Regions from separate parts of the Homo sapiens genome. Here region 2 is linked to region 1. The links come from fine-mapping of genetic effects on gene expression. Tissue or cell type: sun-exposed skin. Region 1 holds a variant in brackets; the other region holds the start of a gene. All regions are shown on one strand. Distances are from middle to middle.

Evidence for each region. PIP is the estimated chance that this variant, and not a neighbour inherited with it, causes the effect.
Region 2: it holds the start of CLMN, and the variant in region 1 is fine-mapped to the expression of CLMN in sun-exposed skin (GTEx, PIP above 0.99). The same link has a PIP of 0.9 or more in breast, esophagus mucosa, gastroesophageal junction, spinal cord and thyroid.

The regions. Positions count from the first base shown.
Region 1 is chr14:95,192,005-95,194,504 of GRCh38, reverse strand. CLMN (calmin) reads left to right here. Exons shown (of 13, transcript NM_024734.4): 12 at 586-656. Among named protein-coding and RNA genes, the nearest start is that of DICER1-AS1, 36 kb to the right of the region's middle. The variant T/C (reference allele first, on the strand shown) is at 1,074.
Region 2 is chr14:95,318,826-95,321,325 of GRCh38, reverse strand. CLMN (calmin) reads left to right here and starts at 1,418. Exons shown (of 13, transcript NM_024734.4): 1 at 1,418-1,615. The coding sequence starts at 1,534. RefSeq lists a silencer at 1,438-1,697 and enhancers at 2,328-2,407, 2,428-2,500.

The DNA.
Region 1 (2,500 bases):
GGCCCCTGCTAATCAATTCCTTTCCATCCTTCCTCCTCCCCAGCCCAGAGCTTTGAAATTACTGGCATGCAACAGCTATACTTTTGGATAGAAGACAAGCAGATTGGAACCTTATCATTAAGCACAGTCCGATCGGATATCCGGTTTGGGCAATAAGAGATGTAAATAAAGTGAGGATTTTAAAGCCCAAAGGCCTCCTTGCTATAAAAACGCACCCAAAACGCCTCACCTGGACCCCGCGCGCACCCAGAAGGATCACGTTCAGAGACAGAGGTGCAACATGAGTCAAGGTCCGATGGACAGTGGCACGTGCTCAGTAGCAGATGTGTTAGAACCCGGAGCAGCACACCCCAATCCGGGTTCCGGGTGGTGGGGTCTCTCGCACTCACAAGGGAGGGGCTTAGGGGAGGAGGTAGAGGAATGTATATTGTTTAGCACTTTGATTTTGGATCTAGACGCTGGCGGTATTGAGAAATGCCCGGCATGCTCGGCTTTGTGTGTTTAAAATCGTTTTATCTTCTGTTTCAGAGATTTCATCTTTACTAATTGGGTTGCGGGGGCTTTTGTTTATAAATTTCACTGTAGGATCATTTTAGCTATGTTCAGTTGAGGAACGCAGCAGATCTGGATGACAGAAGAAACCGAATATTAACCAGGTTGGTGGCTTTACTTCAGGTTTTGTGGGGGTAGTAATAAAATGTTTTTACATTCTGCAGCCTGCCTTACAGGGGTGGTTATTCTCCCACTGCTTTGTTGATAACAGTATTAATAATTTGGGATAATGCAAGAAAATAACTATTCCAGAGAAAATGATGTAAATTGAATATGAGTAGAAAGGAAAAGTAGATATTAATTAACACTGATGGTTAGGGCCCGGTTCCGAAAATGAGTCAGTTTAAAGACGGGTCTGGGTTCTGAGCCTGCAGCTGTGTTTAAATGAGTGGTATAGAGTATAGGGTGGTTTAGTGGTATAGGGTAGTTAGCAAAGGGACGGCCAGGCAGGAGAAGAGGTGGTGGTCTTGTGAGGCTGTGTGGCCCCTGTGAATGCTGTAGCCCCTGACGCCTGTCCATTC[T/C]CTGTTGCCACTGCAGGTACAGTACTCAGAAGCTTACTGAGCTGATTTTACAGTTTTATGGCATCAGAGCAGACATGAAGAGGGAAAGCAAACATGCCAGGATGTCTATGAAAGTATTTCTTGCTGTCGGAGAACTGTTGGCCTGGCCTAATGTTGCTGAATTGCTGGAAACCTGCCCATTTAAAACATAGGAAACCAGAAAAACGTCTCAAATTCTTACAATTCTGAGACGTCCCCATTCCTGTTGAAGTCATAGAGTTGCTTTATTATGTTTTTATTTTTAAAAAATTTTATTTACTCGCCACAGATTTGAATTGGCTTGGAAGGATTTAGATTACTGGAATCGGAAGCCTCTGTCTGAATATTACCCAACACCCAAGAGTGTGGTCATTAGAACCCCATCCCTCTGGCTGCTAAAAAAGAAGCAAGACAGCTCCTTTCCCCTGCCATGAAATGGAAATACTAATTCAAGTTTTCCACCAGGCTGGATATGCTCATAGGAAAATAATCCTTTTTGCTCTTATGAGATAGAGGCGTTGAAAATAGAACCTGTAAAGTTGAGAAATGCAGTCGTGTTTTCAGTTGTCTACATTGAGCATTTATTACCTTTATAATAAAAAATATGGTTTAGGCTGCGCATGGTGGCTCACGCCTGTAATCCCAGCACTTTGGGAGGCCAAGGAGGGAGGACTGCTTGAGGCCAGGAGTTTGAGACTAGCCTGGGCAACACAGAGAGACCGTGTCTCTATAAAAAGTATATAGTTTAACTTGTTTCTGTGGACAGCTTTTTAAAGAAGACCATCATGTGGGTATTTATCATTCAGTATGTAGACTGTGGCAGATGTTTAATCCCACCCTGCCCCTCGCTCCTGCTATCAGGAGATAGTTCTGGGACAAGTGGTTTTAGCCTCTCGTAATCTCCATTACACCGCACGAAACCACCCTAAGAGGCTTACACTGCAGGCTTCTCTACATGCAGCTCCAAGCAGAGGCCCCAGCCCCAGGCAAAACCTTCTGGGCTTCCCTATGATCCGCCAGGCAAAACTGAAATGACATTTTAACACTACCACCTATAAAATAAAAGCAGGAAGGTAAATCTGACTGAAATCAAATCTAGTAATTATTTTAAAGGTAATATTCCAAAGCCAAAACAAAACTGTGGGGAATGGGAGAGGTCTTTGTTTCTTTCTGATAGATGATTTAAAATGATCTGCTATTAGGGACACTTCATCCCTTAGATGACCTATGGGGTCCCCTGCGTTACTAACAAACAGCAGCAAGCGATCAGTATCTAACTCCGTGTCACTCTCTGAGAGCACTGTGGCATCAAGAAAGGTGTCCCAGGAGACCTGGCCTAGGCGCCCTCTCTGTCGCCAAGTTAATTGCATGGCCTTGGGCAAGTCACTCCACCCCGAAAGCCTCAGTGT
Region 2 (2,500 bases), 130 kb before region 1:
ACCTCTGCTGCCCTCCACCCGCATTCACAGTTCCTTAACCCAAATTGACTTTCTCCTTTCTGGAGTCCACTTTAGAAATCTCCTTTCCTTGTTTAAGGGCCACACGATAGCCCCTGCCCCAATGGATGACTGGAGGGTAGACTCACCCTCCTTCAGGGCCCTGCCTCAAGGGCACAGGTCTGTCCTTCGGGGGACCTCCATAGTTACTGGGTAATTAGTGAGCAGCCGGGTTTCCGGGATTCATTGCTGTGAACAGAGCAGCGATGCACACAGGCCCATGTGTTTAAATGCCCAGTGAGCCCTGTCCATTTTTTTCCCCCTCTTGGAACACTGAATATTTAAAGCCATTTTCTTTGTGGCCTTAGTTGTCACAGAAAGGGCCCAAGCACTGAGCTGGGAGCAGGGGGCTGGGACTTCCTGCTCCTAAGTCATTCCTCAACCTTGGGCAAATTCGGTAACTGTAGGGTCTCACTTTTAAGGAGTGTAAACCACATGGTGGGCACCAAACAGGATAAGATCCTGGAATTCTCTAGAGTTCAACAGTGGAGGTGGGGAGGGAGGGGACCGGAAGGCCTGTCCTGGCATTTTCAGTAGTCTCCACAGGAAGTTCTGTCCTGGCATTTTCACTAATTTCCAGTGACCCCACAGAGGGTCACTTGGAGACTCAGTGGCCAGAGACCCCACAGCGTACCCCAGCTCCTAGGAGTTGGCCTGCTTCTTGTTCCTTCCTAGAAGCTGGAGTCACATTACTGGACCGGAAAAGGCTCCTAGTATCTAAACCAACGAAGAAGGCCCTTCTTTCACAGCCCCCCCGCACTTTGGAGACTCCCACAACTTTACCTCCACACTAGTTTGCCCCCCGACCCAGGCCCTCGACACTCCCCACGCAGGGCTCCCAGGATTCGGGGATGGGCAGGGCTCGGGTCCTGGTCCCTCCAAGTGGGGGCTGCCTCTCCAGAGTGGACAGGGGACCCGCGGAGGGGGTGTCTTATCCCGGACGGGAGGGAGACGCTGCCTCCTGGACCAGGTACTGGGACCCACGGGCCCACCCCCAGTTGCGTCACCCGGCCCACCGCCCCCTGAGACATCACAATCTGGGGGCCGGGACCCGCGCCTCATCACAGCCGGTTTGTAACCAAACAATCCAACCTACAAACACCCCGGAAAGAAAAAAAACACAAGCTGGCCTGACCCAGCCTCCCGCCCCTGCCCCGCCCCGCCCCGCCCCTCGCCCCTCGCCCCTCGCTCCTCAGGGCCCCCGCCCCCGCACGGGGGAGTGAGAGCGAGCCCGCCGCCCCGCACCCGCCGCCCCGCGCTCGCTCGCGCCAGCCCGCGGCGGGGGCGGCCCCGACCGCGCCGCCCGCCCCTCCCCGCCCCGCCCCGCCCCGCCCGCGCCCGCGCCCCGCCCGCGCCCGCCGCGACTCCAGCTCCGCGGCGCCCTCGCCGGGTGCGTGCCGCTCGCGCGCCCGCCAGCCAGGCTCTCCGCGCCCGCCGCCCGCGCCGCGCTGGCCCGGGCTCTCCCGCCCGCGCTTCATGGCTGCACACGAGTGGGACTGGTTCCAACGCGAGGAGCTCATCGGGCAGATTAGCGACATCCGAGTGCAGAACCTGCAAGGTAACGCAGCCCAGGCTCGCCCCGGGATGGCTGGGCGCTCGGGGGGCCCGGGGCGCCGCTCCGACACTTGGCAACTCCCCCGCGCCGCCCCCGCTCGCCGGCCGCTCGTTGTTCCTGTCACTTGCCTCGAGGTGGGAGGCTGGGGTTGGATACCCGCCCCCAAGCCCCAGGGCGGCCAGCCGCGGCCAGGTTTACAGTTGCCCAGGGGGTGGGGCGCCACACGTGTGTGTGTTGTGGGGCGAGGGCTCGCATTTTCATTAGGGGGACGTCACCACCCCCTCCAGTCACCGCTGCGAGTTTGGAGAAGTTTGTACGTGGGCTCTTGGGGGCGGTGGCCCAGGTTAGGGAGGGGAGGAGACAGTGCGACTCTGTGTGTGTGTGTGTGTGTGTGTGTGTGTGTGTGTGTGAGTTCGCGCACTTCCTAAGTACCTTCGAGGCAAGGGGAATTGAATGGTGGGCGGCGCTTCAGGGGGTGAGTTGGGGAAAGCGGGGCCAGGGGTGCGGATCGGATCGGTGGGGTCAGGCAAGCACCCAACTCCAGCGGCCACTTTGCTTAGGGAGCTGCCCCTCCCCTGCAGGATCAGGACTCTAACTGGGGAGAGGGCGAGAGCCCCACCCTTCCCCCACGCTGGCCCCCAACTCCGACCCTGCCTGGGCACAGGACACTGGGACCAAGGCTTCTACCTGGGAGGTAGCTGAGAAGAGGTGAAAGAGAAACTCCAGTGGTGGAGAGCGGCTGGGTATGGCGGTGCCACACATGAAGTGTGTTTCTCTTTCAAAAGAATTTATTCAATGTGGAAACTTAGAAAGCACAAAAATATTTGAAGGAAAAAAGTCACCCATAATTTCCCCTCCACAACCTATCCACCCAACAGACAGGTGTTC